Regions from separate parts of the Homo sapiens genome. Here all the other regions are linked to region 4. The links come from fine-mapping of genetic effects on gene expression. A gene starts in region 4. Each other region holds a variant in brackets. All regions are shown on one strand. Distances are between the middles of the regions.

Region 1 (6,521 bases), 40 kb after region 4:
GTATGATAGTTATGTTAGGATTTAGCTCTCCTTTGTGACATACTTTCTGCTTTTATAATTCTGTTTTTAAATCTGAGACTATTGGGCTCTTTGTTTTGTTTGAGAGTATGTGCTTCTTCTGATAATTGGAAAGCCTGTATTTTTCTTCTAATGGTTACTTTGTGGCTTTTTATAATATCAGTAATAGTCTGAATCTTCTATTTCATAATAATATAATATCAGGAAACTTTTGTTGGTCTGATTTTGATAATTCCCCACTCTGAGCAATGACTAATTGAGAAAGTACCCCCTTTCTCCTTACCTATCTCCTCTGTCACAACAGTTTGGTTTTTGCCTTCTCATTATGTGTTTTGTGTTGTTAAATATACATATTCCTCTACTACTTGGTTTATTTATTTAAAATGATGTCTTTTGGTTCCTGGGAATGAAAAGATAGATAAGACCATCAAGAAATTTTGAGCACCTACCAATGCTTTTTTTTTTTTTTTTTTTTTTTTTTTTTTGAGATGGAGTCTCGCTCTTTCGCCCAGGCTGGAGTGCAGTGGTGCGATCTCGGCTCACTGCAAGCTCCGCCTCCTGGGTTCACGCCGTTTTCCTGCCTCAGCCTCCCAAGTAGCTGGGACTACAGGCGCCCGCCACGACGCCTGGCTAATTTTTTGTATTTTTAGTAAAGACGGGGTTTCACCGTGTTAGCCAGGATGGTCTCGATCTCCTGACCTCGTGATCCGCCTGCCTCGGCCTCCCAAAGTGCTGGGATTACAGGCGTGAGCCACCACACCCGGCCTAGAACACCTGCTAATTCTTATTAGTAACATCATATTAATATTGTCAGAGTTTATAACATTTACATGTCTTTAACCATACTGTTTCCATTTATCTCTTAATTCGTTGACAATCTCAAGTAGTGTCTTCAAGAAGACACAGGGATAATATTTATAGGAACAACATTCCCTGGACATTTGCATGTTTTTAACCACATCTTTCTCCACTTCACATTGGCATGGCAGTTTGACTTGGCTTTAAAAAAATATTTTCTCACTTTCTTTCCATAAGGACTTTTTCCCTGAGGATATTTTGACCGATTTAGAAGGTTGTGTTGTATCTGAGACAACCCGACTTGCTTGTTTGTTTGTTTAATTATAAGTTAGTAGATCCTTTTAGTCTGGCTCACCTAAAGATTTTTTTCCTTGGAAACCTAATAGGTCTACTGAAATCATTCTCCATTTTGACACATCTCTATTTTTCCTAGATCATTATATGCCTTATCAAGCATAGATTCAAGTTACCTTCTATATTTTGGAATATTACCTTGAATCATATTGTAGAATATCTGTATACCTCCATTTCTTCTTCTAAGACTCCAATTTTAAAAGATATTAAATCTCTTTTGCCTATCCTCTGTTTCAGGTGTCAGCAAGGTATGTCTCATTGGCCAAATTCAGCATACCACCTGTCTTTGTAAATAAATTTTACTGGAATACAAGCTATTGTTTATGACTATTTTCATACTGCAATAATAGGATTGAGTTATTATGACAGAGAACATATGGCCTTCAAATCTGAAAATATCACTACTGTCAACCCCTGTTCTATATCAATCCTTTCTCTCTAATCCTTTTTAACTCTTTATTCCTATTTCATTTTGCTGGGCTTTCTTGTTCCTGTCTTTTATGTTCTGTGTTTTTTCATTCAACAGTATATTTTCTCCCCAGAGTTGTTTCCAAATGCTTTTATTTATATTTTAATTTTAGTCTTCTACATTTTTCTGAGTTCCACCAGAAAACGTCACTTCATCTCCTTTTCTCTCAACATCTCTGATCACTGACTTCAGCATATATACACATATATGTGTATATATACACACGTGTATGTATATATACACATATATGTATACACATATATTTATATATACACATGTGTGTATACATGCATGTGTGTATATATGTGTGTATATGTGTGTGTATATACATGTGTGTATATATATGGAATTTCTTTCTAAATATATTTAAATTTGTAGCTATATAACAGGTCATAACGTTAGACCTTCTCCATGGCAAAATTTTTCAGGTAACCGTTCTTTATTTGCTATTTGCTTTTCCTTTCTCTTTCTCTGTACTTCTTTTCTTGTAGCATTATTATACAGGTATTATTCTGATTCCTGTTTTGTTTCAGACATCTATTTGGTTGATTTGACTTGGCATCTTTTCAGAATCAGCTATTTTCAGGAAACAGGGACTATGGGAAGTACCAGGCCTTGTTTTAGAAAACATTTCTCGTGACTTGAGGACTTCTGTATTCAATATTTGGCCTTTGCTTCTTCCCAGAAAATGAAGCTAGGCAGCTGTGCAGTTGTCCACCAAGCCACAGTTTCTGCGTAACTCCTCCACATGGATGACTATTTCTAGTAACCACAGCTTCTCTACGTCGGCTTCATTTCTGCCTCTCTGGCTTCTGAAACCCAGGCTTCCATCATCAGCCTGAGAGTCCGTGCACACCTTTGGCTTTACAGGCTCTAGAATCCATCTGTCCCTGTGTGGCTCCTGAGAGGATTCTGCTTTCCCCTTTCCCTCCTAATTTGCACTTTGCTGGGTCCTTTTTCCACCTATTTTGTGGTTTGGCATTTCACGTCTCCTTTTTTTTTTTAAGAGTTTACATTTCTGTTTTTTTTTTTTT[TA/A]ATATCTCCATGTTGCTTTTTGTTGGTTTTCTAGAAAAGGTGGTTGAAATGCTGACTTCATACTGCATCATCACACCGATATCTGTCCTTAATAGTTTTAAGTTTCACTTTCTCAATCTGTTTAATGAGGTATTAGCTGCCCCATGGAGTTACTGCAAAATGTATTAAGCAGTCAATGTAGATTTCCTAGAACATCTTTCTCTACCATCCTTAGTATCTACTCAGGAAAGGGTAAGAGGCTAATTCTATTGCTTCTCAGTCTTTCTTGCTAAGGTTTAATTTCAGAACCATGCTGCAAATGTAAAGTTGCACTCATGTTTTCTGGTTATCGGGTAAACTTCATGTATATAAAAATTAAATTAAATATTTCCCTTCTCAAAGTCTTTATTTAAGATGTTATTTAGATAATTATAGTAAAATACTGGGACTAAAATTTTAGGGCAAAAGTAGAAGTTTTCCAGATAAAAGGTGTATGGAAGAAAGCATTGTAGGCAAGGCAACAGAATGTATATAGCAAGAGAACTACCAAAGATGGTGGAATGTTTGAGACCTTAAAGAAATTCAGCATTGATGGCTGGAAAGCATGAGATCACAAAAGCCCTTTAAGGACCTAACTGTTCTGATCAAAACACTGCATCAATCGTTTAGTCTATTGTGAATTTAGCTGTGTTGATATACTATCTAATGGATTAAACTTACAAATTGGACATTTTTAGCACCCCCTTGAGCAGTCCAGCGTATGAATTATACATTATGATACCCTCATTGGAAGAACAAAGTTGCTTCACCTAATAGTTTATTAATATAAATGTCTTCATTTTCTGAATAAAAATACTGTTAAAAATTATGTATATGTATATGTATATGTATATGTATATGTATATGTATATGTATATGTATATATTGAGAAGAAACAGAATTAGCCTCTTACCCTTTCCTGAGTAGGTACTCAGAATGATAAAACAACGCTGTTCTAATACACAAATGTGTGTATATGTATATTGTTTTAAAATTATGCATTCTGTATGTGTGTGTGCATGTGTTCAGAAATGGCACATATCAAATTAATTGTGGTTAACTCTGGAGAGAAAAGAACTGGAAAAAATAAATAAGACTTCAACTCTATCTAAGGTATTTTATGTTTTCTTCCTTTATTTAAAAAAATCTAAGAAAATGTTAACCGTTAACTCTGTAGAGCAATCAGGTGTCAAGGTGGAAAATTCAGTCAACAAGACAAACTGAAAGCAACAATCAAGCTTCCTATTCACTTACACAACAATGCAAGCAAGAGGTGCAAAGGGGCTCCACCTCCCCCAGTGTTTCATTTTTCCTCCACAGAATGGAACTGGGTGAGGTTCAAGAATGAGGGGGAGTCATCTCACTGCTGAAAAGCCCCAAACAAAAGGCCTTTGTCTCTTCATGGACCCATGGACCTGGGAGAAGAGGAGAAGGGCTTTAAGGAAGAAAGTACTAAGTCAAAATGAGGAAAAGTGCTTCAGTCAAGGCTGCTGAGCAAGAGGCCTCTGGATGGCAGCAGCAGGGTGAGGAATTAGATATGCAGGTGAGCATGGCTGGTGGTGGTGGGGAGAGGGGATGAATTCTTGACTGCAACTCCCTGCAGAGAACTGCAATGCGCTGGCTGTGCACCAAGTCTGTAGGAAAAGCCATTTCCTCCCATAAAGCTCCAGGCTAAGCCTTGCATTTGCCCATGGTTAGGCCTAAAATATATGTAAGATTTTAACCTGGAGACAGACTCCTCAAATTCTAGTTATAAATAAAGTCATTTGTTCTCTATACCTTTCTGTATTTTATACTCTGTCGAAAATTAAAGTTATACATATACATTGAAAAAACAATTCAAATAGATACATAAATGAATAAAGTAAATAGTGAAAGTCTCACTGTAATCACATTACCCAGAGATATCCACTGGTAGCAGGCTGGTGTCTTTGCTCCTGAATATTTTCTGTGCTTCTATATACAAATGTATATAGAGAGACATATTTACAAAAATTGAGTAATTTTTAAATGTATTAGTCTATAACCTATTTTTACATTTAATAATATAGTACAGCATCTTTCCAAGACAAGAGGTATTGATCTAGCTCATCTTTTAAAATGGCTGCATAATTACAATGTACACAGCATTGCAATATTGCAGTGATGTGGCATAATTTTTTGCCCCATATCTTACAATTTTCTAAATTGAAAAATGTAATTTATTATCACATTTGCTACAATTATAAAAAACTGCAGTGTATATTCTTATACTTATGATGTGCACATCTTTGTGTGTTTAGCTATTTTCCGAGTAAACCCTTAAGGTAGAAATGCTGAGTCAAAGGATATATTAATGTTGACATATTGCCAAACAGCCTTCCAGAAACTGTGTGCCACCACATGCATCTTCCATGAAAAAATGTCTTTTAACACACTGTTGCCAAAACTGGGTGTTTTAATAATTTTAATTCTTAACAACTGATAAGCAAAAGATTTTACTTTCAATTTGAATTTCTTTTACTAATAAGGTTTAGCATTCTTTAATGTTCACTGATCAGAACTAGCAATTTTGTGAGTTCCTTATTCATTTTCTTTGACAAATTTTTCACCAAAGCTTCCTATTTTTCATATTAATTTTAGGTTGACATGTATTAGTACTACCTAGCTAGATAGATGCACACATATTTACATATATAAAATGCTGTCATAAGTATGACAAATATATTTTTATATTGTCATATTTTATATGTGTTCTTTGCTTTTCATATGTGTTCTTTGCTTTTCAATTTTGTGATACTTCTTGACAAAAGAAACTTAATTCTTAGAAAACCAAATTTGGAGGAGGGGCAAAGATGGCCCATTAGAAGCAGTTGTAGTCCCAGCTCTCACAAAATGGCCAGTGAATTCTGCACCTTCAACCTGAGGTATCCAGGTTCTCACATTGGGACTGACTAGGCAGATGGCTTGACCCACAGAGAGTGAGGAAAAGCAGGTGGGGTGACAGCACACCCAGGAGTCCCATGGAACAAGGGAAGCCCATGCCCCCAGCCAAGGGAGGCAGTGAGTGATTATGCAACCCTGCCCAGGAAACCACTCTTTCCCTATGGATCTTTGCAACTCATGGATCAAGAGATCCCCTCTTGAGCCCACATCACAAGGGCCTTGGATCCAAAGCACAGAGCTGTGCAGAGTCTCAGCTGAGCAGCTGCTCACTCACTTGCTTGCTTGCTCAGGCACGCAGGGAAACCTGGGAGTTTTGCATACTCTGGCCACAAGAATTCAGGCAAGGCGAGAGATCCCGTGCATTCCCCTAGGAAGGAGGCTGAATCCAGGAAGCCAAGCGGTGTTGTTCTGTGGGCCCCACTCCCACAGCACCTCACAAATTAAGACCCACTGGCTTAGAATTCCAGCCAGCCAGTGGCAGCAGTCTGGAAAGACTGAGACAGCAACCTGAGACAGACTGAGTTCCCAGTGGGAGGGGTAGCCGCTATACCTGCAGTTGGAGTAGGCCATTCTAACGGGCCAGCACTGGAGACTGGGAGGAATTCCCCACAACTCAGCACAACTGCTGTGCCTCATCATGGCCAGTCTGCTTCTTTAAGTGGGATCCCAATTTATCCCTCCTCACTGGTGGGGCCTCCCTGTGGGAATTTCAGCAACTCCAGCCAGGTTTATACAGACAGAACTCTGATTTCTCCCTGGGATAGAGTCTGCCAGGATGCCGGTTCTGGAGAGGTCAGGTAGTCAGTGCAGTGCACCTGCTCTGCCAAGGGGCAGCCATACTGCCTCTTTAAGCAGATGCCTGATCCTGTTCCTCCTGACTGAGTGAGACTTCCCAACAGGGGTC
Region 2 (6,521 bases), 140 kb before region 4:
ACTGAGCTTTTTTTTTTAACCATCATATGTTGCAATTTTTGCTTACTCTGGTATATTTTCAAAATACTCTTAATTCTTGCAGCCCTTCTCAACTGGGTTTCTGTAAAAAAATTACTTGCGGGCATTCGTTTAACTTCACTAGAAAACTTTGTAATACTGATATTTTAAATGGATCAAAACCCATAAATCCAATTCCTATTCTTTTCAGTTCATATGCTTTAAGGACGGACATACTCAGACCAGGATACATAAAAATCTTGGAAATAATGAGCCTTATTATTGCAGTGATTCTATTTTTTTTTTTCTGATTTTCATCTTAGCTTAATCTTTTTATCCCCTTTGTGAACAAAAGCTCTCTGAAAAAGAATCTGGAGGAAAGAGATTTTATTCCAGAGAACTGTTTGCAAATCAGGCAGACATGCAGGCCGCTGTGTAAAATGAAGGTCCATTCCAGAGAATGAAGGGATGGCATGCCTGGGGTTTTATAGGAAAAGTCCCCACCCAGGTTCCCAACCAGGTCTATTTATGCAAACAAAGGGTTGAGTCTTGTTTGGTTTTGACTGGCTGACAGAGCTGAGTTCTGATTGGCCCAAACAGCTGAGCCTTAATTGGCTAGGGGAGGTGATCTCTGGTTGCTTCCCAAGCCCCAAACCAGCAGTCCCTGTCAGATGTTTCTTTCAAATGGCCAATGGGGCCTGGGGCTTGCGGCACTGGGAGGTGTGGGCAGGTGCTGTGCTTTTTGCAGCAGTTTATCTTGTAGCCCAACAACAGAACAGGAGCTGGTTCAGCTTGATTGTAGAATGGGAGGTCCTTTGATACTTTTACAACATCTTTCTGAGAGCGCAGAACATGTGACCATTCTGTCACCCAGCTATGGACACCTAGTTCTGTTTTAACTTTGAGCTCCTCAGTTAGCCACAGGGAGTCCATTTTGTCTGGGGGCATACTTTATCACCTTTCTTTTCCAAATCTTATATTATCTGATTGAACTGCACACTTTAGCACTTAATTATATCGGTATACAACGCTAGTTTATTTAGAATTGTTTTTTCGCTAGTTGTTTCAACTGCACGTGCCTTGCCTTCCTTAAGTGAGTGTGAACTCCTGTAGGCAGGAATTGCTGAACACACATTTGTTTTGTTGTCTATAATTTCTAAAAATTCACATTTCATTAAAATAGCCAAAGTTACCCCTACTAAACAACACTTAGAGGCAATTAGATTAGATTGCTTGTTGGGCTCAGTGAATCACTTCTTGTTAGTCATGGAACCATAGTTCTTTAAGCATTGGGTACTCACATCTCTGGTAGATGTGAATTAAGAAATTAATCCAGGATGCATTTTGGAATGTGTAATTATCATTCCTGAAGCCACACACAGTCACTGCTCTTAGAACTGGAAAGGACTTCTCTTCTTATAGATGCAGCATTTGAGACTCAGAGCTGATAAGAAAATAGCCTGATTAACAGACTTCAATGTTGAAGACATTTGAAATTCAAAGCGGAGCACTGCTTTTTCTCAGATTTAGAATTAAAAGGGAAAAAAGAAACAAGTGACTTTCACATTTGGTGCGAAGCTTGAAAACATACTCTTTTCTTTACTCACTGGCACATCTGAGCACACACATTAACCCTTCCTCACCTGAGACAAATTGTAAAGAATCTACATGCGCCTCCATATATGCGCACCTCTTCCCTCCCCTTCTACCCTCTGCCATTGCAGTCAGGGAAGACAGTGGCTAAGATGTGCAGTGTGTTACCTTTCCCATGAGTACTTGCATTTTTAAACTTCCATTTTCATTTTGGTAGAGACAATGCGTGCTTCCCTACATATGCTCTCATTTCCTTCTCGGTCATGCTGGTAAGTCTGCAATGCTAGTTCCTGACAGGCAAGGTCATGTGATGTAGTCTAGCCAGTGGCCTGTGACTAGAAATGGCACCTTCAGTTTCTAGCAGGGGGTCTGCCACCGCCACATTCTCTTTTCTTTACTACCCTTAATAATCACAAGACAGAAGGAGCCTGGATCTTTGAGTCACTGGCTCGAGCTAGCCCTAGTTAACCTGCATGGGCCTTTGTGTGACGGACAAATCAACCATCAGTGTGCTACGCCACTGGGATTTGGCAATTTATTTGTTCCTCAACATATTCTTATTAATTCCTTCTAATACATTTACATAAAGAAATATGTGTTCATCAGAGACAAATCAAAATAAGAAAAAAATCAGTACTTTGCTGTTCAATATATCCTCACACGTTTTTCTATAAGTGTATCCATACAAGTCAGAACCAATTGTATCCGTAATAATTCCATGTTGCTGCATGTTACACAAAACCCAAGTAAGAATGGTTTAAAAGCATAGTGGCTTAATTTTCTCTCGGTGAAAAGAAGTGTGAATGTAGGCAGTTTGAGAATGGAGTATCATCCACAAAATATCATCAAAATCCTGCCTGCTCAAGCATTTTCTCCTCAGGGTTGTGTGGCCTCAGTGACTTTACCTGTGATTAAGTATCCAGGAAAATAAAATCAGTATGGCATGGTATCACCTGGGGTAGGCATTGACAACAGCTGCTTGGAGTACCAAGGATCAGAATAGGCTTCCTGAAGAAAGTGGTGTTGAAATGACTCCCGTTGTGTTCCCCCACAGAGGGAGCCTGTGCGATGACCCTGTCGTGAGAGGGGCCAGCCCACTTTGGGAAGCTGTGAGGAGCTCGGTGTCGCTGCAGCTGGGTACAAGGTCAGCAGGAGGCAGATCTGGAGGAGCCTGGGAGAGGTATGAAGAACTGGGTATACAGCCTGAGGGCAAGCAAAACCACCGCAGCCTTCTACTGAGCAAAGTGACTGCTCATTTTTACATTTTAGAAACCCTACTCTGACTGGGACTGGAGAATGGGTTGAAGGAGAGAGGACAGGATGGAAAAACAGAAAAACTGGGGGAATCAAAGTGAGATGGGTGGTCTGCTGCAAGACTGAAGGAAAAACAGAAGAAAGTATATGGATCCACAAGAGGATTAGGAGGTACCTGACAACACATTTACACCAGTAAAACTATTTAAACCTGCACATCAAATTAGATATCTTTATGTCTTAATAGATTAAATATTTTTCCTATTACTCATCACTTCTGCATGTTATAATGCTTAAACAAAACCAAAAATGGGTCGAGTGTGGTAGCACA[C/T]GCTTGTAATCCCAGCACTTTGGGTAGGCTGAGGTGGGTGGGTCACTTGAGCCCAGGAGCCAGGAGTTTAAGACCAGCCTGGGAAAAATAGTGAGACCCTGATTCTACCAAAAAAAAAAAAAAAAAAAAAAGTTAAAAAACAACAAAAACGTTAACTCAGATTATGATCTGATTAAATATATAAATATATGCTATTTTTTACTTGTTGCGTCTTATTTATTACGTACTAGTTCAGAACTTCATGGCTTTCTCCAAATATTAATGTTATTAATATTTAAATGCTTAAACAAATATTAATGTTATTAATATTTAGTGAGAAATGTAATTGAAATATGATTTCATTGTTTTTGAAATCTTGATTTAATATTGTGTGATGGAGTGATTCAAATGCCTGCTTCTAAGTTTTAAATTTATTTCAATGCTGAAAATACTTTCTCACAAGAAAATGCCATTTAAAACAAAAGATATTTATCTTTCAGTATCTTCCAAAAATTATGAAAAGACTTTTGTTACAATTACTCTGTAACTTTTCAACATCCTAAAAAATCTAAATTGCTTTTTCTACCAAATAAATGGGAGGGGTTTGCATTTGACAAATGACTTAAAAATGTAACTTTTGGGGAAATTTTTTAACACAATAGAAAATTTGTGATGCTAAGGTATTTTAAGGGTGTAATTGTGAGCGGGTTTATAAGTCATGCTCATTTTCACTATTAAGCCATGTTAATTATAGAAAAATTTCAAATATTGGTTTTCATACATTTCCACCTCCTCACCATGAGTTATTTCAAAAAGCAGTAATTTTTTCACTGTTTCAAAACATCACTTTAATCTTGGGGGAATAGATAATGATGATAATTTTTTCAAATATACCTCTTAGATAGCAAAATTTAGACAGCCACGTGTCCTCAAATTTAAAACATTTTATTTTTACAAAATAAAAATGAACTTTGCCATGAGATAACCAGTAAATAATATTCTGTAACCATTGGTTTGCGAGTTGTTTTGGAGTGGACATACCAGTTTATCAGCATTGCTCAGGAATAATAACTGGATTTAGACCTATACCACCTGGTTTTGCTGGAGCCCAGGGATAAGGAGGGAGAGGGAGCTTAATGGTCAAGGCTGACCAATAGCTGGGATGTTCCTATGTGACCAGCTCCTTGTAGGAGACACTCAACAAACCTTGAGCTTCCTGGTACCTTTGCATATGTGTGGTGGTTGAAAAACCAGAGACAAAGTGTGTCCGTGCGAACTGGAAACAGGAGGACGAAAAGCCATTGAGGACACTACTGATGATGCATATGATAACCATTAATAAATTAGCACTATCTTTTCTCATATTTCAGATAAGAAAATCAACAAAAATATACATGTATTTTTCTTTGTGTAGCCTCATAGGTTTATATTGCACACCCCAGGCAAGGCGTACACAACACATTGGAGACTACTGGATATGAAAGATACTTAGGAAATACCTGGGCTGGAGATATAGATGTGTTGATAATCAGCACATTAGGGGAATAGAAGCAGAGGAGATGGCCAAGAAATTTGTGTAGTTTGAGAAAGTGAGGGTCCAGGAGGATACGCTAGGAACATCAACTTTCAGGAACAGGTCATGAAAGTAAAGCTGATGAAGGAAAATGAGGAGGAACAGCCAAAAAGGCAGGAGAAGAACCAAGAAGTGATGTCATAAAAATCAAAGAATGAGATGCTGCTGAGGCAGCAATACTATTGCCAAGTGTTACAGAGTGGCCAAATAAAACAAGATCTGGCCAAATAAAATGTCACTCACGTGGACTGAGCAACAAAGATGCCAGTGGTGATCATAAGAGTGTCTTCAGTAGCGTGGTCTGGGAAAGTCCCTTGAGAGACTATAAAGACAGGAGGTGGAGACAGAATCAGCAACTATTTCCAGAAGCGTAAGGGTGAAGAAATGGAAACAGAGAAGAGACAGTTGCCCAAAAAATGTGAGTGCTGGAGGGCTCGTTTTTCTTTTTTAAACAAGGAGGAAGAAGTTTGACTATAATACTATATTTAAATGCTGATTTTTAACAGTCAGGAGAGTAGAAGTTGAAGAAATAGAAGATGGGAGGTGCAGGTGAAGAAAATACGTCAGATGAGAGGAGGGGCGCTTCCTCTAGCATGACCGAAAGAAAAAATACAGCCTTTCCATATATTGTTTTTCTCCATTTTATGTATTTAAATAGCTTATATTTTCAATAACTTTTCTAGCGTCTTTATGCAAATTATTTCTATTACAAGCATCTTTGAGGATCCCTGTGGTGCAAAAATGTTACCATTTTAAAAATCCATATCCATTGGCCGTGACTTTATCCAGTCAATCTGTAATCACAACTATTTAAAAATTTGTATGAAATGCAAGAAAAAATAACAAAGGATTAAAGCATCCAGTTTATGCTCATGTAAACAGTCCGCAGTAAAAGTAACACATCTCATTTGTAGTTGTTCACGCAAAATAATTTCAGGCTTCATTGGAGAGAAATCTACATATCACTGCCTGTTAAGCTCCTTTCTTATCGTATATATGTGTGCATGTGTGTATCTATAGATAGATATACACACACATGTATATACACACATACATGTATATGTAAGATATGTATATACATATATAAGATAAAAAAGACAGCTCTTATAATACACATGTATATAATATATATTCTGTGATGTTATACATGTTATATATTATGTATTTTTATCAGAGGTGACTTTATCAAACTTTCATTTTATGTTTATACTATTTCAATGGCAACACTAATGTCACTAGTAGAAAATGGTCAACTGGGATTGGTTCAGGTATGAGTTCAGATTTCAACCTTTTTTTCTGTTTTCTAAAGGGAAAAATGTTAGGAAATTGCTCAGCTTATTTCTTCATTCATTTATTCCCTGGCAAATATTTATTGAACAGCAAGGCATTATTCTAGAGCATGAGGACACAGAGAGAAGTATAATTTAGTTTTCTCTCTTTATGATTTCCCTGTCTGGTACTATGTCATAGCTTGCCAAATGACAGTCACTGCAATAGAGGCACAGGTAAGATGACAGGGGAGTTGGTTAAGAGGAGTCTCATAATCAGTCTGGAGATAGAAAAGGAGCATCCTGAAATCCTGGCATATGAGTTCTTGCAACAGATGCATAGGAGTAATTAATCACTCCCGCCACTGTCCATAAAGGACTAGAGGTAAGACTAGAACACAATAAGGTGGAGCTGAGCATGGAGCATAGAGGGAGGAAGATGGAGATAAAGGGATTTTGGGGGAAGGGACTTCAAGGTGCAGCAGGAAGTAAGTGTAGTCACAGGGATGGGAGAGCCAGATGTATG
Region 3 (6,521 bases), 44 kb before region 4:
TCTCTACTAAAAATACAAAAAAAAAGAAAAATTAGCCGGGCGTTGTGGCGGGCGCCTGTAGTCCCAGCTACTCGGGAGGCTGAGGCAGGAGAATGGCGTGAACCCGGGAGGCGGAGCTTGCAGTGAGCCGAGATCCTGCCATTGCACTCCAGCCTGGGCGACAGAGTATTCCTTTGCATATGGGATGCTATTCTAGAGATTGATGGGAATTTTTAATTAGTTGACCTAAAATTTTCTCTCTACATTTCTTTCAGAGAGACACCTCGTTCTCCACGTGCATGACTTGCTTGCAGCCATGACTACATCCAGTGCCCGACCAGCAGAGCTGGACAATCACCTCCCCACCTATGCAGGTACAAGGGGGATTGCTACATACTCGTAACAGCCTGTCTCTAATCCCTGAGAAGAGATGAGTATGCAGGATCAATAACATGATTTTATCAGTATTACATTAAAGAACTGAATTCTCCAAATTGAATTTGAAACATTAAAATCTGCAGATAATTCTCATTTGAGTTTTAATTTTAGCAGTGTCACATTTATCCTCCAGGGCATATTTCTTTGTACAGTGGTTTATTTCAATAGCAATTAATAGCAACATCAATTCAGCCAAAGTAAACATATTTGTTTGAACTTAGACCGTTAAATATTTCCTAGTCTATTAATTTATGTGTCTGTTAGAGTTGGATGCCCACAAAGAATGAAGGAAATTTCGAGCCTTTTCACAAAATGGAAAGTTCAAAGCTTAACAACCTTGAAAGGAAATGTCTTCATTGCTAAAAAATTGAGCACATACAAAAATAATAAATGCTTCTCAGAAATGCTTCCAATACCTCACTTCAGAATATTAGCTTGCTATTTAGAACAGTCCCTGAGACTGTGGGAAAGCCAAGAGAATGTCTGAGAGACACAGTGAGCTGTGAAGCAGTGAGCCTGCCAGGTATGAGACAGACAAGCCTGAGAGACAAACACCATGGCCATGGCCGGGCCCTGGGACCCTGGAACAAGCAAGCCAGCACCTGCAGTCACAAAAACAAGTGCAACTGATGGCTTTGACGCGTGTTATATACAGAACCTGCCAAGTGTGGTTAAAACAAACACTTGCAGGTAAGAAATATGCAGTCTCTGATCAAACGAAAAGCTCTGTTTTCCTGGATGCCAGCTTTAGATGATATATGTTTAGATTTCTTAATATTCAGGTTCAGGTTTTGAAATTTGTCCTGAGCTTTGGGACACAGGCACTTTGAAGAGAAAACAACTGAAGCTTACAAGGTGCCCAGGATAGACTGTTTGAGATACACTTGTTATTATTATTTAGAGATCCACCTCACACTTTATTTTGTAGAAAAATATAGCATGTGCCGTAGCTCAGAATTTGGAACATGGTATGTGTCAAGTACTTCTGCAATGATTCAGTGAATTCATGAAAGAGAGCGAGAGATCAAGAAAGTGAGGGAGGAAAAGAGAGAAGAGAAAGAAGGGGGGAAACAAAGAAAAGGAATAAGAAAAAGAAAGAAGAGAAGAAGATGAAGGGAAAATAGGAGAGTAGGTTCTGAGGGTCCCAGCCAGTGATGCTGGTGTTATACTTAGGCATTGAACTGACCGTAATATTTTCCTGGGATCTGGTCTTTCTTTACACCTAGAAATGATTGAAATGTCTCAGTTACTTTCTCAGTTGATTCTCCAATATACTTTTGCTAAGGAGTGCAGCTGATCCCAGGAAAACCTGAAAGAAGGTAAGAGAGAGGTAGTTTCTGCTTCCACGGAGACAATCCATTCCAAATACAAGAAGCCAGGGAATTGTTTTTTAAACAACATTAACAACAGTTATTTGTTGATGCTACTTAGATATTTCACCTATATATCTTCATTGCGCTTTCTCTTCCCAAAATATTACCCCCACTCACACAGTCTTGCACATCTTTGAGGTGTAAACACAGACTGCATTTTCTTTCAAGCCCTTCAGGCCCCCGGGACATTCTCAGCTCCTTTCTCAAAAAGCTTTACAGGTGCCTTTCAGTCCTACCTTTGTTGTCTTATTCTCTGTTTTAATTATTTTAGTCATTTGTGGACTTGTTTTTAACTTTGAATTTCTTTCAAAACTAGCATATAATTTTTAAATAGTGGTCATGAGTTGTTAACTGAATGGGTGAAATAATGGTGAAAAAGTGCCCTGACTGGATTAAACATTTTTTGGATATGGCCACATTTGGATCTAGACCAACAACTGACATCAGGATCCCAGAAATAAACTGCAAACCCAGAGCCAGCTCTCTCAGGGGACAGGGCTGCCTCTCTGGCTGGCTGTGGACCTCCTTGTTCCACATGAGGATCCCCTCTTTACCTCTGTGATTGACCTTGGAAGGTCATCATGAAGCCTGGCCTCAAACTCTGATTTTCCCCTGCCCTCTGTCATGTCTCTGCTTAAAATCCTTCTTTGGTTACTGTTAGAGAAAAGAAAAAACTCTGAGTTCCTACCATGACATGTAAGCCCTTTGCAAGCTGGCCTCAGCTTCTATTTCAAGGGACACCTCCTCTCTAACCCCCTTCCTTCAGCCTCGAGCTGTGACTCAGACTTACCTGTCATTCTTGGAATGTTCTCTTTCATACCTCCAGCTTGCTTCTTGTTTCTCTAGGACCCAAATGTACAGCTAAACAACTAGAATGAAGTCCAAATTGCATCATCAATGATTTCACTTCTCTTTTTAAAAACTTTCCCTGGCATCCCATTGTCTATGGGAGCTGTGGGAACTGACATATTAGCTGACCTGACATACCAGGCCAGGCCTTGCTGGTATTTGTAGCTCTAAACAAGCCTCTGCCCTATCCTGGTGCACCAGGATTCTCCCATCCTGCCTGCATGATTCTCTTGTGATTCTGGTCTGATCTCATCCCACACACAAGAGAGCTCCTCAGGTCTTCCTGAGGCCTGGCTGGTGGCTATTCCCTTGTATCTTATCAACCCCCTTCCCAAAGCCTTGCCCACAACCTTGCTTGGGTCTCAGTGGTCATTGTCCATGGCCTGAGGACTACATCAATGTCAAAAGTGAGATATGGAAGTGGTTTCTGTGGCTGTTTTATAAGAAACCTATGGTAGAGCCAACATCAGAGACCAGCCTACAAAATGAGAGTCCTACACAATTTATAGAACCCTGAAAAATAACATTAAATAATCCAAATGCTCATTAGCGTGTAGACCTTAGTCACCAGAACCCCTCCCTGCACCATTTTAAAACAGACAAACAAGTATAACCTACTTTGGGATTTCTCACTTAATTTATTAAACAAGTGATATCACTCT[AACTG/G]TCTACTGTACAGTAGGTAGCAAAGATTCTGAAATGAATAAAACACATCACCGCTTTTAAATCTCCTGTTTGGTAGGAGAGAAAGAGGCACATCAATTATTTACAGAAACACCTATGGGTACGTGAAAAATGCTGCAAGAATTCAGAAAGAGCAGTAATTATTTAAGAGGTACTTGAGGATGAAGGCATCAAAATAAAGTAAAAGATGCTTGGGTACAGATATGTAGCAGTTACTGGATCTTGAAGGGTGCATTGAAGTTCTAGATGTAGAGAGGAGGAAATAAAGCACTCCAGGGAAAGAGAAGATTCTGGGCAAAGGCTTGGATGCACATTCGGGGAATTACCAATAGTTTGATGTACCTGGAACATTTGACATATTAGGAGAACGTGGGTGAGAATCTGTACATGAGGATTCCCATATTTACGGCATGTTGCCACTCTAAGGATTTTCAATTTTATTCTGAAAATTATGAGGGATGCAGGGAATTTTAGAATACTAAATGACATCTTAATATTTCAATTTTGAAAGCTTGTTTTGGCAACAGATTGGATAGTTGGCAAAGGGTTATTCAAGTTTAAATATTATAAGGATTGGAGCAAGATGACACCCACCTAGGAGAGCTTGCCCCCAAATTAAACAAAAATTGAAGAGTCTGGGCTTGGAAAAGAAAAGTACATGCTTCAGGTAACTTCATCCACATTCAACAGTAAAAAGACAAAGAACAGTCACTGGATATTTTAGGAGAGCTAATGACACATTAGATGGATACCAAATTTCCCAGACAAAAGAACTAACAGATGGGTTGGTTTGCTAAGAGGGCAAAGTGGAAAAAAGTAACTTTAAAATGTCCTCAGAGAGAAGAGAATGGTGTGAAATAAGACTCAGAGTTGTTATTTTAATTAAAATGTACCAAACCACACAATCAATGAGCTTGTAAGAAGGTTGAGAATACTCCCACAGATAGAAGCAAAAAAGGTCAAGAGATGGAAGATTTAAAAGAAAAGCTAAAAAACCCCAAGAACAAAACTATTAATAGAAGTTCCAACATCATCTGGAGACAGCAAAAGAGAATGAAATGCTCAGATAAATAATTAAAGGACATTTTCTACACATAGAAAAGATAAAATGTTTATGTTGAAAGGTCCCACCCAGCACTGAGCTAAACTACTAGAAAAGACTCAGATTTAGACACATAAAGATGTTATTTCAAATCACAAAGAACAAATTAGCATATCCACTTCGATGTATAATAAACATCTCAAACTTAGTATATCCAAGGCTGAACTGTGCCCCAGACATACACAAAAACTTCTTCCTTGCAAAGTCCTCGCAGTTTAACTAGTAATACGAACTCCATTTTCTATTTGCATACGTGAAAAATCTTACAATTATCCCTAATTCCTCTTTTTCTCCCATAATTCACCTCCACTCCTTCAGCAACTCCTATCCCCTGTCTCTCATATTAGTCCACATAGAGTCCATGGGCCAGATTTTTTCTATAAAGGATATTACTGGTATAATTGGCCAAATATTAACACAGTCTGCAGATTAAATAATAGAATTGTATCAATGTTATTTTCCTGATCTTGACCATTGTATGTGGTTGTATAAGAGAATATCCTGTTCTTATATAATATACACCACATACTATAAGGATAAAGGCAGCATGCTTTCTATTTATTATCAAATCAATCCAAAAAATTACAATATGGATATACAAAAAGAGAAAAACCAATGTGGAAAAGATTACAATTGGGGAATCTGGGTGAAGGTTATATTGGAGCTCTTTATCATTCTTCTAACATTGTAAATGTTTTGTGTAAAATTATTTCTAAATTTAAAAATTATGAAAAATTACATAAAATAAACATAGAGTTGGTCAACTCTTCATTGCCTAAATTGCAACAACTGGGATTCAGCCACATTAACTCTTAATGGGATTATTACAGCAAGCCCATGAATTCTCCCATTTTTTACTCCTAACTCCCCTATTCCCAACTCAGCAACCAGAGTAATCTTTCAGAATGTAAATTAGAAGATGTCATTCTTCTTATCTCAATCCTCCAATGGCTTCTCACCTTTCTCAGAATCAAATCAAGATTTGGAAATGGTCTGAAAGGCCTTACAGGATGTGATCCCTCCTCCCCGCTCTCTGTCCTTTGATCTCACTTCCTACAGTCAAAATGCAGTGAAACACATTTTAAACCTAAAATGCTCATGTTCATACCAAATTAAAACACCCATTGGTTTCCACATGGTGGCAGTGAGGGAAATAAAAGAGAGAAATTGTATGTGAATATCTCAGTATTTTTTGGTGGGGAGGAGGTTAAAGGTACTGTTTAAGTGTAGAGAAATAAAAATGAATATAACTTCTTGATGAAAACTTAAGAGCAATCAATTAGTGAACCAAAGTTGCATGTATGGCTTGCAAATTATGAGAAGGAAAAATGGAACACAGTAATAGCAGTAACAGAGGCAGGAAGGAAAAAAAAAAACAAAGCAAACATGGTAAATAGACATATTTTAAAATAAAAGAATGAAAAGTCCAGACATCTGAAATCACACAATTTATAATTTGTTCCTTCTTCCACCTACAAAAAGAAGAAATTTTGTCTATCACTCTGTGACTACACTAAAAACCACTGAATTGTGGTTCACCAACCATAAAGTTGTCCTTTGAAAAAAGAATGACTTTTATAGTTGGTGAATTATATTTCAGTAAAGCCATTGTGCAAAAAAAGAGAGAAAGAAATTGCGTCTGAGCTGAGCCTTGGGGATGAGGGAGGAGGGGGAGAATTATTGACAGAGAATCAATGCTGCCGGTGACTGCCTTCATTCATTCATATCAAGGGCAGAGCAGGAAACTCCCTGGTTAGAGGACTAGGAGGATGCCGTGCCAGGAACCAGGAGCCCTGGATGCCTCACCCTGCTCAAGTTCGCAGGCCTGGTCCCTCTGATGTGGCCGCTCATTCCTCCTTGCTCCCCGCTCCATCCCTGGCTTCACTTCTTTCTGCTGCACCTTGAACAGATGGGACTGCAGATTCACCTTCTTGATTCTTGACCACTCAATACAAGGAACCAGCCCTACCCAAGCCATGTTCTTCATAACACTGATCACTGTCATCTCACTTTTTCTTTGTCATTCTCTATATTCACCCCTTCTTCCAAGAAGAAAAGATCCATGAGAGTGGTCATGGTGTCTCCATCTCCAGGAG
Region 4 (6,521 bases):
AAAGCCTTCCAGGGAAGTGCAGGGGTCATCTGAAAATGGAGCTTGGGACAGCAGTCGAAGCGAGAGGAGTGTGTGCTACCAGTCTTGAATTTGTAGAACATGCAAGCACTGCCCAGGGAGTCTCAGAAATCCTCAGAGAGGGGACTAAGCTTCCTGCCACATCCAAGTGAGACCTTGGATCATAAGACATATTCGAGCTCCCATTCATGAAGCATGTGGTCTTTGGATTATATTTGGGACTTATCTCAATCCTTAAGGAGATCCGGGAATATGTCCTCAGTAGAACTGCTAAATGTGTGAAGAAAATGGTGCTATTTAATATAGAGTGATACTGCACAGGCTCACTGTATAATTGTATCCCAAAGCAAATAGTATATTTCTATTTCCTAACAGCTTCTGAGATGAGAGGATGACAAGAGTAGAGGTGAGAGGCACTTTTTTGAATAAGGATGTCTCAGGCATGACACCAACTATATACAAAGCTACTCAGGTTTTTCATTACCATTTCTCAACATTTTAAATCTTAAATTTCCCTAAGAAGTGAATGAATCATATACTAGATATTATAGATTGGATTTCCTTTAGTGGAATTGTTCCTGGAGTGAGAACAGAGCTACAATTTGATTGATCACAAGTTATTCCCCTGCCCTGGGTAGCTGTGGGAAATTCCCAGGAAACAGTGCTCCGACTGACATCATCAATTGGGCAGGCAGTGGAGCTCAGTCTGAACTTCTTTATCAGGGAGCAGAGTGGTGCCCTAAATTCTACCAGACTTGACTTTTGGATTTCCCAGAAAAGCTACCAGTTATGCATGATGTTCCAGCTGATACTATCTTCTACCCAGTCTCAGGACACGAGGGGCTCAGATGCTGATGGCAATGCTTTTCATTAACAAAATTTCACTCTCCACTCACGCCATCCCAGAGAGTAGGTTACTAGCAACCTTGTAAAAAGTATTTCTCTCTCCTATGTTAATTAAATTCCACAAATTTCACTCTTTTTAAAAAGTGACTTAATCATCAGGAACTGCAATATTGAGTTGGCCAATTATTTTGAAATCACAGTTACATCCAATTTTGAAAAGAGAAGCCATCTTTGGACTTAGCAACTACTGCTTTTAGACCATCTGGAGTTCCAAGCCTTCACTATCTATGGTACGTAATCTCCATGATAATACCTTCATCATTTCATTCACTTATTCACTCATATAACCATTCCAAAGATGCTGGGTACTTATTATGGGTCAAACCCTGTTCTAAAATATAAAGGTAGCAAAGGCATAGTTCCTGCCCTTAAGGAAATTATGTTTTTAGGAAACAGACTATGCTTAGATTAAGTTTGATTATGACTGTCACGAATAATAACATTGTCATTCAAAATAAGATGGGACAATAACATAATTTGGAAAATACTTTGGTATAACGTATGAACTAGCTTTGAAAACACTTTGCAAAGCAATGTCTCAGAAATCTTTGATCAATTGAAAATTGTTTTCAATGTTATTACTTTGAAAGACAGCACAGACTTGCACATATTCTAACTTCTTTAAAATATTTTTAGTCTGAGTCTGAGTCAGGAAGACTGCTTGAGCCCAGGGATTTGAGACCAGCCTTGGCAACATAGTGAGACCCCCTCTCTAAAGAAAAAAAAAAAAAAAAAAGGCAGGCAGGGTGGCTCACACCTGCACTCCCAGCTATTCGGAAGGCTGAAGTGAGAGGACCACTTGATTCCAGGAGGTGAAGGCTTCAGTGAGCTGTGATTGTGCCACTGCACTCCTGCCTTGGAGACAGAGCGAGGCCCTGTCCCAAAAATATATTTTTTAACATATTATTTAACAATATATTTAACACATTATTTTAGTCACAACATGCTACGTCTCTTATAGTGCTAGCACAATGGCTTACCCATAGTAGACACCAGTAAACATTTCACAGGCTCATTGATTTTAAATTTGGAAAGCACTTTTAGAAATTAGCTAGACCTGTGGTCCTTAACTACAATTGGATTTTGGACCACTTTGAAAATCAATCCGTGTTTTTCTTATTTAAAAAAAAAAAAAAAAAAAAAAAAGTGCTGCCAGGCACAGTGGCTCATGTTTGTTATCCCAGTACTCTGAAAAGCCAAGGCAGGAGGATCACTTGTGCCCAGGAGTTTGAGACTAACCTGGGCAACATGAGCAAGACCCTGTCTCTATTTAAAAAAAAAAATTAATTAATTAGCCAGGTGTGGTGGCAAGTACCTGTAGTCTCAGCTACTGAGGAGGCTGAGATGAAAGGATCACTTGAGCCCCGGAGGTCGATGCTGCAGTCAGTGAGCCATGATTGAGTCGCTAAACTCCAGCCTGGGCAACAGAGAGAAAGGCCCTGAAGAAAGAAAGAGAGAAAGAGAGAGAGAGATGGAGGGAGGGAGGGAGGGAAGAAGGCAGGAAGGCAGGCAGGCAGGCAGGCAGGCAGGCAGGAAGGAAGGAGGGAGGGAGAGAAACACACACACGCACAAAAGGAAGAAAAGAAAAACACACACTTACATTTTTGCATGCAATTTCAGAGGATTGGTGTATCAATCTAAAGACCATCCAGGAACTCCCTTAGCTGAGCATCTCTTATCCAGTCTACAACTTCCATTTTATAATTGTTGAAAATCATTGCTAGAAGAATAGTTGGAAAATTGTGTCACCTAAGCCAAAGCTGGCTCACTTCTTGTTTTTATACAGCCTGTGAGCTACGAATGGTTTTTATAGTTTTAAATGGTTATGTAAGTACCAATATATTAGCCTCAGTTCTACCTCTTGGCTTGCAAAGCCTAAAATATTTACTATCAAGGCTTTTGTAGAAAAAGTTTGCCAACCCCTGGTCTGGAATCCTTAGACAATATTCCCCCAAATTATGCAGCCAATTACTAGAAAACAGAGGACTAGAATTCACACCACCTGATTCCTCATCCATTGGTCTTCCCATTACTTCTATTGACTGATTAAAATCCTAATTAACTGATTTAAACCCAATAAAACAGAAAACAAAGACATGTAATTCTGGAGTACTTAATAAGTAATTTCTCAGATAAGTAATTGTGCAGTTATGTAGAACGCTGAAGTCCAGAGAATTAAGTGACCTATCAAAAGTCATATAACAAATTTGTAAAAGAAACAAAATTAAATGCCTATATTCAGGTTAGGCATTACTGACTTATTGTTTAAAAACTTTGCATTATATTTCATTCCACATATTTGAAAAATATTACTTCTTGGAAGTAGAAAATACTGGTATAGAAAGTATTTTACTTAAAGTAAAATTATTTGAACAGATGTTGTTCTTTTTATTTATCTTATTTAAGAAGTTATTTTCAGATCCTTCCTGTTAAGTAGTACTTTAAAAGTGGGATGGAAAGAATTATAATTACCATTATTTCACATGTTATTTTGAATATACTTCTTTTAGAAATTTCTAAGTACTTGATTGCTTACAGATTGTTTCCTTCTATTGACTAGGGCTGCCTGAATAGTTTCAAACTCTATCTGAAAATAATGCAGTAATAGAGTTAAAGGATTTTCATAACAAAAGGAAATTAAGACATCACTTAAAAGATAAGCATTTGAATAATTATACACAAATTCAATAGTGCCAACTGCTCTAAAAAATTCTATGATATGTTTAGCTGGTTTTTTGACAGAGAGATTCTGAAATCATTTTTGTTCACATTTACCCATAAATATTAGGTTTTACTTTCAGAGCAGCATATCCTAAGCAGTAAGAATAGAACAATTCTTTCTATAAAGGAGGAGTTGTGGTCAGAGAATAAGCTTGCTTTTTAGAGCAGAACCATTTGAAGATTCTGAATTAGGACTATGCCAACAAATTAAGTGTGCTTTATTTCTATAGCACTTTCATTCATGTCTCCCCAAACCTAAGTCATCTGCACTTACCTTGAAAATCCAGATTTCTCAGTGATGGCTACAGAGATGGGCCACATGTCTGCCTTCCAAATAGGATTCTGTTTCAACAGCAGGGCAGCTGGGTCATTTCCATGCTCTGCATGCATTTGCAAAGGCTCTGGACAGCTCACCAAGCAAAAGGAAGTGAATGTGTTCTAAGTTCCTCAGAATGTCAACAGACCATAAAACCTCAAAACCATTTGAAACACAATAGTCTTGAAAAACCAAGCTCTTAAACATGAGTAGTCCAGGTTGCAAACTACAGAGAGGCCAATTGTCAAGAAATATTTATGAAGGATTGATGACTACGATGAATCAAGTTTTTAAAATGTTCTTCAAACTAAATTTTGTAGAGAATGGGGAACAAAGTGGTATTATCAAAAACAAAAAGGGAAGGTAAACTGTGTATTGTTCTTCTGGTGAAGGAATATGTGTAATATTTCCTTTCAGTAAGGAGAAAATTTCCAGAGTTGCTCTATACCTCACTGGTAACTTAGGGCTCCCACTTTTATAATTGTGTTAATTAGCTGTCACTGATAAATGGCATTGACTGGGATATGGCACTATAATTATGTCATTTAATTAGAATTAAGAGAGAAAATATTTAAAATCAGAGTGTGCTATAGGGGCAGGGGAGGGGAGTAAATCGTCACAGCTTAACTTTTTAGACTGTCAACATTATCTCCAGAAGAAGCTGCCCATACAGTCATAGAGATGCACTGCAAGTATTGAGAAAAAAAAACATCAGTTCCTCAAACTGCTTGAACTTTCCTACCATTTGATGACCACTCTATAAATTAGGATTTTATAAACTTTCTAATTATGTAAATCGGTGGTCCCCAACCTTTTTTGGCACCAGGGAAAGGTTTCATGGAAGACAATTTTTCCACAGACAGGGGTGGGGATGTTTTCTGGATGATTCAAGCACATTACATTTATTGCGCACTTTATTTCAATTGTTATTACATGATAATATATAATGAAATAATTATACAACTCATCATAATGTAGAATCAGTGGAAGCCCTGAGGTTGTTTTTCTGCAACTAGATGGTCCCATTTGGGGGTGATGGAAGACAATGATAGATCATCAGACATTAGATTCTCATAAGGAACACTGCAACCTAGATCCCTAGCATGGACAATTCAACAATAAGGTTCATGCTCCCATGAGAATCTAATGCCGCTGCTGATCTAACAGGAGGTGGAGCTCAGGCAGTAATGCAAGTGATGGGGAGCAGCTGTAAATATAGACGAAACTTTGCTGGCCCACTCGTGCACTGCTCCGCTCCTTCTGTACAGCCCAGTTCCTAACAGGCCACGAACCACTGCTGGTCTGTGGCCCAGGGGTTGAGAACTCCTGATGTAGACAGCATGTTAATATTATATAGAAATTGGTCAATTAAAAAGTACTAATTTATTAAATATCAACATTTTCAACATTCCCCTATTTTTAAAATCCATTGTGACATTTCACTATTTCAAAAAGAAATTTTAAAAGGCATCAAAATGATACTGGCCCTGGGTTCTTTCTATTTTAAGGTCCCTAAGTAGAATGATAACTTTGGTAATTTGGGGTGATTCCTGGTATTCTTTACAGTGCTAAAACACTCATTATTTTAGGCGAAATTTTTGCAGTTCTGTTTTCATCAGTATTCACATTTCTTACTCCAAACATAATGTTCTAAGTGCTTCCAACTTTGTTTCTTAGTTTGAAGAGAAGGCCTCTGCATCAGGAAACTCTTCAATTTCAGCAGATGTGCGTTCTTTCTGCCATATGAGTTAAAATGCTATCTGCTTCAAAATAACTCATGCTAGAGATATTTCAAGCTTTATTAGTTGTAGAGAAGATTGTTGCTGACAAACCCTCCTGCTGAGAGCAGCTTACAAAAATGAACAGAATGCAAAACCTATAAGTTTGAAGGCTTCAGAAAGCTGCCCAGGCAATGACACCTTGAAGAAATAAAATCCCCAGAAGACAGGAAGTACAAATCAGTGAATCTGATTTTCAACTCCTGAGTACTTTTTACTCAAGGCACTGCTGATTTGAAACTGGACACTGAGAGGTGAAGAAACAGGTGAAATACAGTGGCTAAGATGCTCAGAAGTTAAGGAAATCTAGTTTAAGAAGCAAACAGAGACCACCAAGGAGGTGGTGCCCTTATAATTACCTCAAATTTTCAGTTAGGACCCCTGAAGGGCTACACCCTAGGAGACAGCATGTGCTAAAAATATTGTACCATCACAAAGTGGGAGCCCAATTTCAAATCACCTAAATTGCTGAATTAGGTAGACAATCACTGAATAGATAGGAGATTTGCCATCGTCATAACGACCTCCTCACACACATCAAGCAAAAGTAAATACTCTCTGGAGGACGATAACACTAACCAGATCAATGAATTGACTCTCAAACTTTTTAAACACAATGTCCAAATTTCAATAACTATTAAAAGCCATGTCTGAAGATAAGTCTAGAAAAACAGACCATGAAAATAAACAGAAAATAGAAACAAATGCACAAGGGCATTCAGAATTGATTGGTTTTAAAATAGCTGTAATCAATGTTTGAAGAGAGTACACAAAATATAGAA
Region 5 (6,521 bases), 36 kb before region 4:
TTTTTCACCAAAGAGCAGGCTTCTGGATTTGAGCTATCCTTTCTCTCCTCACTTGAGGAGTTCACCATTGCTGCTGACTCTCTAAAGGTGAGGATGCAAGTTCTGGTTACCTACAAGGGAAGTGGGAGCTGAAACTCAGAGGCTTTGTGTCTGTGTAGAGTGAGCCACACTGCTCTGCAAGGCACCCAGGGCACCCCTGCTGCCACCCATGTTCTCGAAAATAAGGAACTGTCAGTGAGTTCTTTCCATTCCCAGGGAGAGCCTTGCATAGATCTGTAGGTCTGCAGATATTGAAATGTGCTATGAATTCTGATCTTTGTGAATGTCCATCTCCTTACCAGAAATTTTGCTTCAAAGAAATCTTTCATTGTCCAGGAACTGTGCTTTATTCTCAGAAACTGTTAAATCTGGGGGACTGTGTTCCTGGCATTCCTGAGTGTCCAGTGCTACTACAGCCTTGTTGCCACCTTTGACACACCATCTGGCCTACTTAATCCACCCAACCTCAAAAGACAGAGAAACATGTCTATACGGACATGTAAGGGACGAGGCCTTCAGACAGGCAAAACGTGGTATCCAACAATGCTGGTAACTTCCTTGCCTCCAAGCCTCCTTATGGCCCATGAAGCACTAAAATGTGATAGAGCAAGAATAGGACATCACTAAAGGAGGCTGCTTTTCACATCACCATTTCACAAGATTCACTCTGTGCTTCACCCAGTATCATAGTTTCCTCCCTCCCTCACCATGTCCACTTCAGGCATTTCACTATCTGCTTGCTCATCTTCCGTGCCATTCACTTTTTTTTTTTCTTCCTAGTAACTTCTAGGGTTTTATTTCTTTTTATTTTCTCAGTGTTTCTGGTATTTTTTATATTAATAAAAAAAGAGGCAACTAAAAGGCACTAAAGAAAAATTAGGCATTTCTGGACTCTTAGGCCAGGCACGGTGGCTCATGTCTATAATCCAGGCACTTTGGGAGGCCGAGGTGGGTGGATCACCTGAGGTTAGGAGCTCAAGATGAGCATGGCCAACATGGTGAAATCCCGTCTGTACTAAAAATACAAAAATTAGCCAGGTGTGGTAACACACTCCTGTAGTCCCAGCTACTCAGGATGCTGAGGCAAGAGAATCACTTGAACCCAGGAGGCAGAGGTTATAATGAGCCAAGTGGTACAAGATACCACTGTACTCCAACCTGGGCAACAGACTGAGACTCTGTCAAAAAAAAAAAAGAAAGAAAGAAAGAAGGAAGGAAGGAAGGAAGGAAGGAAGGAAGGAAGGAAGGAAGGAAGGAAGGAAGGAAAGGAAAAAGAAAAATTAGAACAGAATTTTTCCACTTTTTAAAATATTAGTGTATTTTCTGCTAATATCTTTCTATGCATCTGTGTTAGATTGTTAGATAGTGATAATATTGCACCTCAATTTTCAAACCATGTTTTTTGCTAGTAATGTATAATACCAAAGTACTTAGCCTTGGAGTTTCTGAACTTTTTTTTTTTTTTTTTTGAGATGGAGTCTGGCTCTGTCACCCAGGCTGGAGTGCAGTGGCATAAGTTGGCTCACTGCAACCTCCACCTCCTGGGTTCAAGCAATTTTCCTGCATCAACCTCCCAAGCAGCTGGGATTACAGGCACCTGCAACCATGCTCAGCTAATTTTTGTATTTTTAGTAGAGACGGGGTTTCACCATGTTGGCCAGGCTAGTCTCGAACTCCTGACCTCAAGTGATCTGCCCACCTTGGCCTCCCAAAGTGCTGGGATTAGAGGGGTGAGCTACTGTGCCCGGCTTTTTTTTTTTTTTAAGAGAGGGAACCTTACTATAGTGCTTAGGCTGGTCTCAAGCTCCTGGCCTCAAGTCATCCTCCTGCCTCAACCTCCCAAGTAGCTGGGACTGCAGATGCAAGCCAGCATGCCTGACCTGTTTCCGTGCACTTTTATACGACCGTATAACATCTCATCAAGTGGATGTCTCCAAAGTGATTTAATCAAATTTTCAATGATGTTATGTTTCTAACTTATTGTTATAAATAACTCTAGGACAATCACTTTTGTGAATTTAGTGTTTTACATATTTTAGATTTTTCCAGAAGGTGGTGTCCAATAAAAAAGTGGTCATATGACATGAAAGTATTTGTGGATATAGATTAATAGTGCCAAGTTGCTTTATGTTGACAGACATGAAATATTTCCTTAAAGTCAAAAGTTTATTTCTGCTTTCTAATTTAAACTATTCCTGTCAAGAAGTTTTCCAATATGTTATCCAGATGACTTCAATCAACCATTAATCTTTATTCACTGTAGGTGAAATATACTTGTAGGCAAAATTCTGAAATGAACAAGACAAAAAAGGCTGTGGATAAAATATATCCTTCAAGTAACCCATTGCCCCCTGAGACAGACACCATACTTTCAGGCCTCCACAGTCTAGGCTGACAGTGAGAGAAGACTCTCCCAGAAGTTCTAAAAATTGTGTCTCCACTTTACACCCAAACAGAGACGTGGAGAAATTGTCAACCTTTGTCTTGGAGCCCAATATAATCTGCCAACAAGTTCAGCTGCCACGCCAACAAAAAATCTAGGGAGGACCAAGAATGGAAAATAATTTTAGGACACGTTGGGCATGTTTCTAATGGGCATTTCATCTGTAGAAGTAACCAACATCTATGGATGGAAAACACCACACCACCAAAGGGAAAGCCGTTCAGAGAAGACCTTTCTTAAATCAAAGCTACTGAGACATTAACCAGGCCAATCTGTCCAAGATAACCCTTACTCTGTCTTCAGCCCCAGGTACCTCTAGGTTTATGCCTTTTCACCAATAACGGGCACATCTATTGTAGCATAATGTATTGATAACTTTTGTCACCAGGTCCTGAGTGCCTCTTCAGTTCCTGGCACTAAGATGGAAATTTCTTATATGATACTTA[T/C]AATCCTCCCAAGAAATCCAGGACAAGGGTACTTTTATTCCAAATATTAGTTGAAGAAATGAAGCTCGGAAAAGTTAAGCAACTTTCTGGGTTCACTCAACTAACAAATGACAGCCCTGAAATTGGAGACCCAGGCTGTTTGACTCTGAAGCCTAAATGTTCTGCAGCACATCACAGGGTCACAGCAACACAGAAGTCCCTTTCCTATGAAAAAAGAGAAAAAGTGACATTTCTTCACTGCTCCATCCCTGCTCTCCTTCGGAGCTGTGGATTCCCCTAGACAATTGGTCCTTGTTTTTCAACTGTATTGTTTGTATCTCTATGACCAATTATCAGGGTATTGAAAAGCAGTTAATTAGAATACTAGAAGAGGACTTGGAGAAGTAATTAAAACAGGCCTACTCAAGTTCTCTAAAGCCAATAAATGTTTGAAAAGCAGTTCATCAGATTGCAATGTAAGAGAAAAATAAAACTGCACTAAAAATTTAATTCCCCAAATTTAATGTATCCCAGAGAGGGTTCTGAACCCTTTTCTTAATTTCTCTTTTTTTTTTTTTTTTTTGAGACGGAGTCTGGCTTTTGCCCAGCCTGGAGTGCAGTGGCGCAATCTCAGCTCACTGCAAGCTCCGCCTTCCGGGTTCACGCCATTCTCCTGCCTCAGCCTCCTGAGTAGCTGGGAGTACAGGTGCCCACCACCACCCCTGGCTAATTTTTTTGTATTTTAGTAGAGAAGGGGTTTCACCATGTTAGCCAGGATGGTCTCGATCTCCTGACCTTGTGATCCATCTGCTTCGGCCTCCCAAAGTGCTGGGATTACAGGCATGAGCCATGGTGCCGGCCTAATTTCTTTTCCTTTTTGAACTCTTAAGTACTTAACTCTCTGCTTTTGTTGAAACTGGAAACTACACTCAGAGATTATTATGGTGTGCTCAATTCACATGCTCAGCTCCAGGAAGACCTAGCCCAAGGTGGGCCATGTAAAGCCATTGATGGGCACCAGGGTCTGGTATCTCTAAGTGCCTGCCGCCCTGTGCCCTGTGAACCCAGGATGAGTGCCTGGGGCAGGCCCTCTTTTGAAAGTGCCAGGCTTGAGTCATGGCACACCTTTTCTCTGCCTGCCTTCTGCCCAACTCCTGGTTCACCTCCCAGGCCCTGCTGAGTCCCAAGCCTTCCTGAACCCCATCAATCTCCCGACACCCTGGAACCCTTTTCTTTCATGTCGTTGCCCTGGCAGTAGTTTAGATGTTCCTCTTTGACCAGTAACCCTCCAAGACTGGTCACCCCTTCAGAGGCTGGTTCCAGGCTGGCCCTGACACTCTCTGGGGGCTGCTTTCCCCATTATTCCTGCTGCTCCCCATTTCCAAAGGCTGCCCTGGCTCCCCCATCCTTGCCTTATTTCTAATGGGATCTCTGGAAGGATTCAAGCTCCTCCTCACACTCTCATTCCCTCATCTCTTCCAATAAGCTCATTCCCTGCTGTATCTCACAGGAGTCGAAGGAATGTTTTTCAAAAAAAAATTCCTGACTGGGTGGAGAATCACTAATTTCACTCATTTCCTCAGTTTCTCACCTAATTCTCAGCCCCCTTTTTCTGGTTTTCTGCTCAGCTGCCTATGAACTGTACATTCTAAATATGGCCAAGGCGAACTCTAAGATTAGACAGTTTAGTCCCTTACAACAATAACTCATAATTCGCAGACGTGTGTGGCAAAGGTGAGTGTCAATATTTTTGAGGAAAGGAACTAAGTTGCTAGAATCATTTTGATCCTCCATATAAGATGGGAGAGGACCCATCTGTCAATTATTAAATACAAGATGAGATCCATGTTAGAATGGTTAGAAGAAGCTACTAACCATCAATGCTGGATGAAGGAAGAAGAGATGCAGATATCCAAGCATTATCAGGAAACTTCTTGCCAAATTGAAAACTTGCAAGATACAAAAACTTATCACTGAGTCTGATGGTCAGACAAGATGACTAATCCCAAGAGTGTATGATTTGACAAAGCCCTGGCTTTTGCAGTCATATCTTACCACCTCTCATAGCTCACACAGACTTCCACCTTAGGCTCAATCAACACAACTGTCTTGTGATAGTGCTGGTTACCAAGCAGCCAAAGGCATTTGTTTCCGGGTCCAACCTTTGATTCTGGCATGGCAGAACCAACCAGAACTGTGTGGACATTTTTAAGTATAAACTGGCCATGCTCCACATCACAGCTTTCCCAGGTCACAGGAGAAAGCTGAAATCGTCTGGTGAAACTCTTCACGCACAGGCAAGAAAGCTTATTCTTCTTGCCTCCATAATGCCCTCCAACCCTATCCCCCACCCTGCAACACATATACACGCACACACAACTTATCAGGGAAGCCTAAAATAAAACAAATGTGAGCCCTGCTTAAGATACTGCATCTTCAGTTCTATGTCGCTGGTGTGCATTCAAAGCCTAACAGAAGCCCTTGGTTAAGGTTCAATGAGCCAGGGAGATCTACATAGGCTCTATCACCCTTGTGATCTCAGAAGAGCAATTGTTAAGTGGATGTAGACAGGGCTCTAGTATCAGTTTCTCTCTCATTTATGCTCAGGGCAAATGTTGTTTCCTTTGCCAACCAGTGGCTTTTTCATGCATCTCCATAAATGAGGATAGCTCAATTTGTCTTAAATCAAGCTCATCAGCAGAAATGACTTTCTAACCCACATTTTCTCTAAACCTTCTTTTCTAGAATCCCTTCCTTCTTTCTTTCCTTCCTTCCTTCCTTCCTTCCTTCCTTCCTTTCTTCCTTCCTTCGAGACAGAGTCTCACTTTGTTTCCCAGGCTGGAGTGCAGTGGTTCATAGCTCACTGTAGCCTCGAACTCCTGGGATCAAGCAATCCTCCTGTCACAGCCTCTCAAGTAGCTAGAGTAGCTAGGATTACAGGCACACGCCACCATGCCTGCTAATTTTTGTAGTTTTTGTACAGATGGAGTCTTGTTATGTTGCCCAGGTGGCCTTGAACGTCTGGCCTCAAGTGATCCTCTCACATCAGCCTCTCAAATCACTGGAACTGTTTAATTTCTTTATAGCACTTATACAATGTCTATCTGTGAATCTATTTGCTAATTCGCATATGAATTGACCATTTTCCTCACTAGACTATAGTCCCCATGAGGGTGCTGAGAGTGACTATTTAGTTCATCACTAGCATGATACTAGATACCTAGTAAACACCAAATACTTTGCTGAACATTTGCTGAATTTAGGGCTTCTAATCACCCTTACTAGTTATAAACTTTTTAACAATTCTAACTTTCAATATAATTGACTTATTTCACCCCAGAGAGAAGAAAGAATACTTCGCAAGGCAATTAGACCAGGGGATCCACTTCCTGGTACATTTATCACACAATTATATTTAACAATTATACTCATGAGCAATGTAAACAATCAGATTTAAGATATATGTGTTTGCCCAAGAGATGTATAAAGATTGTTCAGTAACGAAGGAGGGACACACAGTAAAAGAAGAGCAGTCCTGCCCTCAAGGAGCTTATAATTTAGTGAAGGAGACAGATGCATGTTGTAGAAATTCATGAAGGTAAAATAAGATAGTG

Direction of the effects. Alleles are on the strand shown, and positions count from the first base shown. SD is a standard deviation of normalised expression in the study named. Not every link is listed here.
With allele A in place of TA in region 1, the expression in monocytes after R848 of the gene that starts at base 4,057 in region 4 is higher (small effect, 0.37 SD a copy in Quach 2016).

What was found. PIP is the estimated chance that this variant, and not a neighbour inherited with it, causes the effect.
Region 1: its variant is the best candidate, but not a certain one, in a credible set for the expression of GPR141 in monocytes after R848 (Quach 2016, PIP 0.74).
Region 2: its variant is the best candidate, but not a certain one, in a credible set for the expression of GPR141 in whole blood (TOPMed, PIP 0.72).
Region 3: its variant is the best candidate, but not a certain one, in a credible set for the expression of GPR141 in whole blood (INTERVAL, PIP 0.76).
Region 5: its variant is the best candidate, but not a certain one, in a credible set for the expression of GPR141 in testis (GTEx, PIP 0.52).

What each region holds. Positions count from the first base shown.
Region 1 is chr7:37,641,728-37,648,248 of GRCh38, reverse strand. No RefSeq gene overlaps it. Among named protein-coding and RNA genes, the nearest start is that of GPR141, 39 kb to the left of the region's middle. The variant TA/A (reference allele first, on the strand shown) is at 2,674.
Region 2 is chr7:37,825,495-37,832,015 of GRCh38, reverse strand. No RefSeq gene overlaps it. Among named protein-coding and RNA genes, the nearest start is that of NME8, 20 kb to the left of the region's middle. The variant C/T (reference allele first, on the strand shown) is at 3,176.
Region 3 is chr7:37,725,121-37,731,641 of GRCh38, reverse strand. The region is part of intron 2 of GPR141 (G protein-coupled receptor 141); the gene reads right to left. Among named protein-coding and RNA genes, the nearest start is that of GPR141, 45 kb to the right of the region's middle. RefSeq lists a silencer at 2,496-2,605. The variant AACTG/G (reference allele first, on the strand shown) is at 3,302.
Region 4 is chr7:37,681,302-37,687,822 of GRCh38, reverse strand. GPR141 (G protein-coupled receptor 141) reads right to left here and starts at 4,057. Exons shown (of 3, transcript NM_001381946.1): 1 at 3,920-4,057; 2 at 2,240-2,363. RefSeq lists an enhancer at 5,995-6,054.
Region 5 is chr7:37,717,708-37,724,228 of GRCh38, reverse strand. All of the region lies in intron 2 of GPR141 (G protein-coupled receptor 141), which reads right to left. Among named protein-coding and RNA genes, the nearest start is that of GPR141, 37 kb to the right of the region's middle. RefSeq lists an enhancer at 5,098-5,207 and a silencer at 5,498-5,557. The variant T/C (reference allele first, on the strand shown) is at 2,929.